2 separate regions of the Homo sapiens genome follow, and region 2 is linked to region 1. Evidence: fine-mapped QTL for protein levels in blood plasma. A gene starts in region 1. The other region holds a variant in brackets. All regions are shown on one strand. Distances are between the middles of the regions.

Region 1 (5,491 bases):
TCCAAGGCAGGTGGATCACTTGAGGTCAGGAGTTCGAGACCAGCCTGACCAAATGATGAAACCCCGTCTCTATTAAAAGTACAAAAAGTTAGCTGGGCATGTAGTCCTAGCTACTTGAGAGGCTGAGACCCAAGAATCACTTGAACCCAGGAGGCGGAGGTTGCAGTGAGCCACTGCCCTCCAGCCTGGGGGACAGAGTAAGACTCTGTCTCAAAAAAAAAAAAAAAAGAAGAGAAAAAGAAAGAAAATAAAATAAAAAAGAAAGTGACAGTTAAAGACAAGAATAGACAGCAGGGAAGGAGGATAGGAAGAGTAGGGGGTGAGGCTGTGAGAAAGCCTTTATGGTATCCAGTATGAGGGAACAGATCTCTAGACTTGCACTGGCCGGACAAAGGTCTTGAGGCTGGAGGGGAGGAGGCTGCCCGCGATCAAGTTACAGCAAGGAGGATGGTGTGGCTGGAGAGGTGGTGAGCACAGGGGGTGGTGTCGAAGGGGAGGTCAGAGAGGTAGAGCAAGCCTACAGATCAGATAGGCCTTGTGGGTCACAATAAGGACTTTGGCTTTTGCTCTGACATAGGAGCCGCTGGTGGGTTTCTAGCAGAGAAGTGGCATGATCTCATTTTAACAGGAGCACTCTGGCTGCTGTATTGAGAAAACACTCAAGGAGGACAAGGACAGAAAAAGATCAGTGAGGAGTTTGCTGTGACAATCCAGGTGAGAGGCGACGGGTCTTGGACCAAGGCCACAGTGAGAAAGTGGAGGGTGAAGCATCTGAACATGAAGAGTAGGAGATGACTCTACATTTTTTTTTAATAGAAATGGGGGTCTCGCTATGCTGGCCAGGTTGGTCTTGAACTCCTGGCCTCAAGCGATCCTCCCACCTCGGCCTCCCAAAGTGCTGGGATTACAGGCGTAAGCCACCAAGCCTGGCCTCTACATTTTTGACCTGGGCAACAGGAAAGGAACTGAGATGAGGAAGACTGTGGGAGGAGAAAGATTGATAGAAAAGATCAGGATGAGTTTGTCTACTAGACAGCTAAAGGAACTGGGGCCTGGATGGCTGGATACAGAAGTCCAGGGTTCAGGAAAGATGGTCTAGGCTGAAAGTATACATTTGGGCATCATTAGCATAAAGATGCTCTTTAAAGCCTTGAGGACCAGATGAGATCACTAAGGGAAGCAAGTGTTTCAAGGAAGAGGGAGTGATTCACTAAGTCAAATGCTGCTGATAGGGCAAGTGAAGATGGGGCGTGGCAATGAATGAATAAACGCCAGGCCTGTTAGATATGCAAAGCGCCAGTGATTATTGAGGGTTAACTGACAACAGACAGGTGTAGAGACAAGATGGCTCTAAGTCACAGGAACACTTAGAGACACAGGGAAGGGAAGAACTATGGCATCTTGGAGTTGGAAAGGACCTTAACTAGGTCATTGAATCTGTACTCTTTTCCCCACCCTAGCCTGACAATTGAACCCTTGGCTGTAGAACAAGAAATATTTGCGGGATACTGAGGCAAACAGTCTGGCTAGGTAGGTTAGAGAAAGTACCGTTGAAGAATGAGAAAAAGGGTACTTCAGTAAATGCTGGACAGCAGAGGCAGGGTGAGGGAGTGGAGATGACCTTCCGAAGTCAGAAAACCAAGGTTCAGGTCCTGTATCTGCTGCTCCCTAGCCTCCTGTCCTTGGGCAAGTCACTTCACCTTCTCCAGCCTCAGTTTCCCCATGCGGCGACATCTGAATATGGTAGTGCTTGAAGGTAGTGTAAAAGTGTCCTGCCTGTGTTAGTTACTGCCAGAGCAAGGGAAGGAGGCCAAGAGAAGCCCTTGGTTTGGGATGGCAGATAGGACTATCAAGATCTCCGCAGGTGGGCTGGCGCAACGTGTGGAGAAGCGAACCAGCATTCAGGCCAGGACCTGGGCTGGAATGGACTGGGCTCGGGTGGCAAGGGGGCCATCTGGACAAAGACCGTGGCCCTGAATCTGCCTCCCCTGAGCCTGGAACGGAGGTGGAGACCCCGAGGCAGCAACAGGGAGAAGAAATAGAGACGCTGAGGCAGAGAGACCAGAAGACTCAGAGACGGGGAGACTAAGAGACAGACCCAGCAACAGGCGGCCTCACGGGGGCCCGCGGCGACCCGGAGAGGGCGAGGCACCGGGACACAGACCCGGGCCGAGAGGAGCCCCCGCGAGGCGCAGGGCCGTGGCGCGCGGGCGCAGGGTCCCCGGCGGGGCCAGGGTGGCCACACTCGCCGGGCGCCCCCTCCCGGGCCGCTCGCCCAAGATGGCGATGGAGGGGCGGGTGAGGCGGCAGCGGCCCTGGCCCCCGCGCCGGCCCCAGCTCGGGCCCGGGCCCCCGAGGCCGCGCCCCCGCCCGCGGCGCCGCGCCTCCCCGGGCCACTGACGCCCGGCGCGCTCTCCCCCCGCGGCGGCGGCCGAAGCACGGGGAGGCGGCGGCGGCGGCGGCGGCCCGAGCCCAGCCCCATGGCGCGGGGGGACGCCGGCCGCGGCCGCGGGCTCCTCGCGTTGACCTTCTGCCTGTTGGCCGCGCGCGGTAAGGGCGGGCGCCCGGAGAGGCAGGAGCGACTGCGGAGTGCTGGTGCGCCCGCGCCCTGGTCTGCATCGGGCTGCGGGGCTGGCTCAAGCCGGAGTCCCGAGCAAGTGCGGGGGCTGCGCGTCCAGGTGCCCGCGATGCCTGCGCGGGGGTCTGCGAGCTGCGGCCGGGGGGCGTTTGTGGGGCGTGCTTGTCCGCAGTGGGTGTGTGCCTTTGGTTCGCAGAGTCTGGAGTCGTGTGTGTGTGTGTGTGTGTGTGTGTGTGTGTGTGTGTTGGGAGTGCTCCTGTCGTGTCCGCAGTGCGTGCCATGGTCGCGGCGTGGCATCGGCGGGGCGGGTAGCTGCGGTGTCGGTGGCTTTCGCGGGGCGGGCTCTGCCTTGCCTGCGCGTGTCTTGGGTTGAGAGTGTGTGTAAAAGAGGAGGGAACTGGGGTTGTGTCTGCACCTCCATTTGGGTCGGGTGCGTGTGCAATTGTGTTTATGGGGCTGAGCTAATATTTGGCCTTGGCATTTGGGAAGTGTCCTTGCCCATAGTGGGGGACAGAGCGATGGATCCCGTTTGACTGGGGGTGGTGGTGATAAAACAACACTCAACTTTGCCCAGTGGGTGTGGTCCCTGGGGCCGGTTAGAGAGGGGTAGAGGGAGGTGTTGCTCCCCAAAACCTGTGGCCAGCAGTGGACTGGGGGAGGGGGCAGGAAACCATTTGCTTTCGTGGACATGTCCAGCGCTTGTTCTCACGATGGGACGCGTGTCACCCCGGCCCCACCCCCCAGGGACCGACCAGGGAAGCGTGGACGAGGTCAGCAGGGCCTCATCCAGTCCGCAGCCCAGTGCGGAGTGGGTACGGGGTAAGTCAGAGTTGTCCAAGCTGGAGAAAGGGCTGGGGAGGGGATAGCGAAGTCCCCAAGGGTGTGTGTCTAGGGCTGCGGCTTCCACCCACAGCTCTGTCGCTTCCTGTCCGGTGTGCGTTTGGGGGCGGCTCATGGGGAGTGTAGGTGGCAGGGCTGGGAGGGGGATGGGCTGGCCGCTTTGTTCGCCTAGTTCTTGCCTTCCCCGCGGAGGGGGGAGCTGAGGATGTGTCCGGGGAGAGTCGGGGAGGGACTTGGAGGTGGGGGTGGGGAGGGGGATTTCTCTCCAGCTGCTGCGGCTTTCCAGAGAGACTCAGCCAGGCCACGTGGGAGGGAGGCGGGGGGAAGGAGCCTCCGCCTGGCCAGCCCCAGGCCCATCTCCAGGAAAACCAAACAGCGGGTGGGAAAGTGCCGGGAACTCCTCGGACCCCTTCTGTCCCTACAAAGACACGCCCCTTTCCAGCCCCAACAGCGGATTAAGCTGGAGGCCGCCGCGAGGCTGGGTCTCGGCTGCTGGGCCAGAGGAGCTGGAGGCCCTGGCTTGTCAGGTGAAAGGGGCGGGGAAGTGTCAGAGAGAGGTCTGTCTTCCCAGAGCTCAGGGGATTAAGGAATAGTTCCCCTGCCCCACCTTCCGCTATTCCTAGGGCTCCTGGAACGAGCTCAGGGTCACCCAGCTAAACGGCATCAGGGCTGGGAACCGCACCGGCGCATTATTCAATACCTTTAGGACCTGCCGCGAGGGACCCAGCTTCCCTGGCCTCTCCCTGCTCCCGAACGCACAAAGCAGGCGAGGGACCGAGTTGCGGCGTCTCTTGGTTGCAGTGTGAGTGGCTACAACAGCTTGCCCTGGTCCTCCAAATCTCAGCAGGCCGGGGGACACTCCAGTCGAGTCATGACTAGCCACCCTGATCTGTACTGAGGTCATTCATTCGTTCAACAAATATTTATGGAGCACCTTTTATAGGCTAGCTTGTGCCTAGTGCCTAGAATATAGTAAATAAGGAGGCAGACCTGATCCCTGGTGCAAAGCTTTCAGTCTGGTGGAGGGGGAAACTGACAAGTCCCCTGAAGTGCTGGGGAAGACGCAGGAAGGAGGGGCTCCTACACCGATCTGGGAAGGTCAGCAAAAGCTTCCTGAAGAAAGTGATGAGTAGTAGAGCTCGACATGGAGTTAGCCCTGTAGAAGGAGAATGATGATGGGGACAGTTTTCCAGAGAACAGCATGTGCAAAGTTCAGAGGTGATTTAGTTGAGATCATTGGATTAAACTAAATCTAGCTGGAGTTTAGGGACAAGGGGTGGATGGGGGGCAGGTGAGGGAAGCATGGAAAGGGGTCAGGGAGTATCAAGACAGGAGGCTGAAGAGGGGAGCTAGATCCAGCTCACAAAGGGCTTTACAGGGCCCACCAAGGTTTCTGGCCTGAGAGTCCCCATGAGCCCTTGACAGGATTTAAAATCAGCTTTGCATCATCTCATTCCAGCCAGTGTGGAGGATGGATTGGGTGGGGCTGGAGGCAGGAAGCTCCAGCTCCTTCGAGGCTGTTGTAGCAATCCAGAAGAGAGGATGGTGGCAGCTAGCATAGTGGCAGTTGGGGTTGGGCTGGAGTGGCTGCATTCCAGAGATTTTCAGGAAATAGAATCAGTAGAACTTGAGGATAGATTGAATTTGTAGGGGGCGAGAGAGAGGAAAGTAAGAAATAGGCCGGGTGCGGTGGCTCACGCCTGTAATCCCAGCACTTTGGGAGGCCAAGGCGGGCGGATCACGTGAAGTCAGGAGTTCAACACCAGCCTGGCCAACATGGTGAAACCCCATCTCTACTAAAAATACAAAAGTTGGCCAGGTGTGGTGGTGCATGCCTGTAATCCCAGCTACTCGGGAGTCTGAGACTCGAGAATCGTTTGAACCTGGGAGGTGAAGGTTGCAGTGAGCTGAGATCACGCCACTGCACTCCAGCCTGGGCGACAAAGTGAGACTCTGTCTCAAAAAAACAAACACAACAACAACAAAAAAACATGAGGCAGAATGAAGGGCTGGTATTGGGGTTAGGATAATGCCTGTGCCTGCCCATCTCCTCCCAACACTGTTCTTGAGTCA
Region 2 (5,000 bases), 370 kb before region 1:
AGATGAGCTCGTTGCCTGGCCAACATGGTGAAGTCCCCTCTCTACTAAAAATGCAAAAATTAGCTGAGCATGGTGGCATGCACCTGTAATCCCAGTTACTCAGGAGGTGTAATCCCAGTTACCTGGGAGGTGGAGGTTGCAGTGAGCCAAGACTGCGCCACTGCACTCCAGCCTGGGCAACAGAAAGAGACTCTATCTCAAAAAAAAAAGAGAGAGAGAGAGATAGGAAATCCAATTAGATGACTACTGCAAAATTTCAGGCTAAAAAACAAACCAAAAGGTGTGGGTTTGAACTAGGTCAGTGGGAATGGGGATGAAGTGAGGGAGGATACTACTGATGTTAAGGAGATGACAACAATTCTTTTTCAAGATTAATTAGGTGTCAATGAATGAGGGAAAAAGAGGAGTTGATGACTCAGGTTTTGACTTTTTTTTTTTTTTTTTTTTTTTTTTTTTTGAGATGGAGTCTGTCTCCCAGGCTGGAGTGCAGTGGCATGATCTTGGCTCACTGTAACCTCCGCCACCTGGGTTCTAGTGATTCTCCTGACTCAGCCTCCAGAGTAGCTGGGACTACAGGTGCATGCCCAGCTAATTTTTGTATTTTCGGTAGAGACAGGGTTTCACCATGTTGGACAGGCTGGTCTCGAACTCCTAAAAAAAAAAAAATTCAGTCTCCACAGGCGGCTTTAGCTTTTAGGTGCATGGTGAGTTCAACTATAAATTATTCAGGAAATGAGAAATTATAGGAGTAACAGGTTTGGGGTAAAGATAATGACTTCACCTTTAAATGCTGAATTTCAGGTATACTTGGGACTGAGCTATCTGGAGGCAGTTGAATACACAATCCTGAAGTGCAGGAGAGAGGTATGGACTAAAGACGTGTGTGTCTCCTATTCTGAGTGATTATATAGACAGAAAAGAGGAGGGCTTTTTTTAAATTTTTTTTTTAGTTTATTCTCAATTGCAGGTGTTTCCCCTTGCTGGCAGAGTTCCTTTAAGTCTTGACAATAAAAAGGGCATTCTTGTTGTCCACCCTTGTAGGATGCATGTCTGGGCCAATCAATAAAAAGAAAAGACTTGTGGTGTCTGATTTGTTCTGCTTCAGGTTTCCCAAATAGCCTAGCTATAACAACAGTGCTGAGTTCATGAGAAAAGCTGACTCATATTTCCTGCAAGTCAGCACAGATATCCATCCTTCCAAAGAATTTGAACCTCTGGCCACTCCCAAAGACAATCAAAGTATTGCAACAATTTATGAGCATCTCTTTCTTTTGTTAGCTCTATTATAAAGATGCAAAGTAAAAACAAACAAACAAACACACCTTTCCTTCCTTGTACCACCCTCAGCCCCGTTCCCCAAACAACGATGTCCTTATCCTTCAGAGAAAGTCCAGTTTCTCTCAGGGTTGGTCCAAATGCCATCTATTTTGTCTATTTTGTCACCTTCAATTCTCACAATGAGAATTAATCACTCCACTCGCTTGGGCTCCCATAGCAACGAGTTTATCCATCTAGCATAGAATTTGTCATAGTTTGACTTTTACTAAAGTTATATGCCTAGGAAATACTTTTTGCCTCTAATGTGTGCTTATCTGTCATTGCTTTCCTTCTGTGCCTAGTGCAGTGTTTTGTATACAAATGTTTTCTGAAGTGAATTTGTTAAAAGTTATGAAAATATTGTCTACCACTTCAAGAAAGTCAGAGGAGTATACTTCGTGGTCAATGACAGTTAAAATACATATTTTTAAAACAACTCCCCTGCAGATAATTTAAGAAGTAAAAATTCAACTTATAAGGAATTGCTGAAAGAGGTAAAATTGTTAATTTGAGGAAAATGTTGAGAAGTGATCATTTTCAGAAATTTGAAAAAGTGCTGAGTCAAAGATATGACTCCTCAGATGGCTACCAAAACGGCAGAGACAGCAATGGCTCAGACTGCTACAGCTCTCCTGTCCTTGGCCACTCTTCTCAAGCACCAGGTTTAGAATTTATATTTCTTTTTTTTTTTTTTTT[TG/G]AGATAGGATCTTGCTCTGTCACCCAGGCCAGAATACTGGGGTGGGATCTTAGCTCATCGCAGCTTTGAACTCCTGGGTTCAAGCAGTCTTCCCAACTCAGCCTCCCAAGTAGCTGGGACTACAGGCATGTGCCACCATGTCTGTTTTTTGTTTGTTTGTTTTTGTTTTTTTTTTGTAGAGATGAGGTCTTGATATGTTGCCCAGGCTGGTTTCAAACTCCTGGGCTCAAGTGATTCTCCCACCTCGGCATCTCAAAGTGCTGGTATTGCAGGCATGAGCCACCATGCCCAGCCAGAATTTCAGAATTTGTCACTTCTAACATGACTTTTCTTACTATTATTCTTGAAAATTGTTCAGATAATTTCTTTTTTCTTTTTTTTTTTTTTTGCAACCTCTGCCTCCTGGGCTCAAGTGATCCTCCCACCTCAGCCTCCCAAGTAGCTGGGACTACAGGCATGCATGCACCACCATCATGGGCTAATTTTTGTATTTTGGTAGAGATGGGGTTTTGCTATGTTGCCCAGGCTGGCAGATAATTTCTTTCAAAAATAATTTCATCAGGTTTGTGTTTTTAAGAAACAAATGGATAATTTGACCACATTGCTAATAAATTTTAGTTTTTGGATTAAATACATTGGAATGTCACTCAAACACTGTTTCACAGTGAATACAATTTGTCAATATGGATTCTGCTTTGTGACACATCTAAATAGTTTCTAATAGGCCATAGATCCCTGGTAGTTTTTCTCACCCATAAGGAAGCCCTGTAGCATAGCTATCAAGGACTGCTTTATGGGCCGGGTGTGGTGGCTCATGGCTGTAACCCCAACACTTTGAGAGACTGAGGAGAGCGGATCACCTGAGGTCAGGAGTTCGAGACCAGCCTGGCCAACATGGTGAAACCCCCATCTCTGCTAAAAATACAAAAATTAGCCAGGCGTAGTGGAGGGCGCCTATAATCCCAGCTACCCGGGAAGCAGGAGAATCGCTTGAACCCAGAAGGTAGAGGTTGCAGTGCGCCAAGATCACGCCACTGCACTCCAGCCTGGGCGACAGAGCAAGACTCTGTCTTAAAAAAAAAGGATTGCTCTCTAGAGGCTCCAGGTTTTCATTTAAAGATGTGAGAAACTTCTGGTATAGCAATTAAGGTGCATAGATTCAACAGGTGGAGAGGATTAGGCTGTACAACAGCTTGCGCTTCCATTGCTTTAAATGGTTATTGGTTTCATAGTTTTCCTTCATGCATCATTCAAATCACAGCATTTTAAAATAACTTCTAAGAAATAGCCGGATACAGTTCAACATATAAAATATGACAATTTCAGAAATGGCATGGGGCCAAAATTTATTATCCAAAAAATTCTATTTGGCTCATGTCTACATTGTTAGAATCCCTTGCCCAAATCACATCTAGGGTTTAGGTTTAACTGTGACTATAGTCACATATGCCTGGAGTGTTGAGAGGACTCCTGATATGACTGTTAAGGGGGGCTCTGAGGTACGATACTTCCTGGGTACACAGTCAAATGCTGCGTATTGGTTTTCTACTGTTTATCAATATTGTTCTTTAAGAAGCTATTTTCTCTGATTAAAAAAACCTTCACGCCTTTTAAACTTTTGAAAGGTTTTAGAATCTCATTGTGTATGCTACATGCAACTATATAACATTTTAATTGGTACTCTGTAGATGAAAATATTTGTGTGTATATATATATATATATGCACATATACATGTATAACCAACTAAAAGAGTGCTTTTGCTGCTAGTGGAATATTTTGATATGCCAAGCTACTCCTTAAAGAGGAATTGACCTGATACGTCTAGCAACACTTAAAACTAATGAAAGGCTAAATCTGTGTCCAATGGGTAAAGAATTGGGAGGGTTCCCAACTGGACTTTAAAAAAAGCTTTTTAAGGTAGGGCACAATGGCTCATGCCTGTAAACCCAGCACTATGGGAGGCTGAGGTGGGTGGATCACTTGACCCCAGGAATTCAAGACCGGCCTTAGGCAACATAGTGAGACATAGTCTCTACAAAAAACAGAAAAATTTGCTGGGTGTGGTGGTGGGCACCTGCAGTCCCAGCTACTCCAGAGGCTGAGGTGGGAGGATCAATTGAGCCTGGGAGGGAGGCTGTAGTAAGCCGTGATCAGGCCACTGCACTCCAGCCTGGGCAACATAGCAAGACTCTGTGTCAAAAACAAGTCTTTTTTTACAGCTTTAACTGACATACAGAGGACTACATATATTTAAAGTATGCAACTCGATTGTTTTGTTTTGTTTTAAAGCAAAATCTTGCTCTGTCACCCAGGCTGGAGTGCAGTGGCACAATCTCGGCTCACTGCAGCCTCCGGCTCTGGGGCTCAAGCGATCCTCCCACCTCAGCCTCTCAAGTAGCTGGGACCACAGGCGCACGCCACCACGCCCGGCTAATTTTTTGTATTTTTGGTGGAGACAGGGTTCTCGCCATTTTGCCAGGCTAGTCTTGAACTTCTGAGCTCAAGCTGACCCTCTTGCCTCGGCCTCCCTAAGCGTTGGGATTACAGGCATGAGCAAAGGCGCCTGGCCTCAGTTATTTTTCTAACCTTTATAGCATGTTTCCCCTTAAAATGTGCTTAAGTACTTTTTTATTGTCCCTCTTCTCCCACTAAACTGCAGTTTCCTGAAGGCAAAGGTTTTCTGTTTCCCTCACCACTGTGCACCCTCTGTATGGATGTTTGTTGACTGAATGAATGAATACAATGAAAGAACTGGAGGTAGGAAATAAAGTTGTAAACTTGGTTAGTAAAAGGCTATGCAATTTAGGAAAAGTTGACTTTAAAGCAGAGGGATTTTGGGGGTCCTGTTTCTTCTTTCATTTGTCCATGGAATAATGTCTAACATTTATTGAGTACTTTCAAGCACTATACTAAGTACTTCACAGGTACTATAGAATTTAACTCCCGAGCAACCCCATGGGGGTAATCAAGCTTTATTAACCTCAT

What was found. PIP is the chance, under the fine-mapping model, that this variant and not a neighbour inherited with it causes the effect. Protein levels are from the aptamer-based SomaScan assay of Sun 2018.
Region 2: its variant is fine-mapped to the plasma level of the IGDCC4 protein (Sun 2018, PIP 0.92).

Annotation. Positions count from the first base shown.
Region 1 is chr15:65,419,852-65,425,342 of GRCh38, reverse strand. It overlaps IGDCC4 (immunoglobulin superfamily DCC subclass member 4), which reads left to right and starts at 2,396. Exons shown (of 20, transcript NM_020962.3): 1 at 2,396-2,550. The coding sequence starts at 2,481. RefSeq lists enhancers at 1,584-2,118, 3,094-3,363, 3,384-3,493.
Region 2 is chr15:65,792,921-65,797,920 of GRCh38, reverse strand. The region is part of intron 1 of LOC105370866 (a long non-coding RNA gene); the gene reads right to left. Among named protein-coding and RNA genes, the nearest start is that of DENND4A, 3.1 kb to the right of the region's middle. RefSeq lists enhancers at 4,932-5,000, 4,775-5,000. The variant TG/G (reference allele first, on the strand shown) is at 2,014.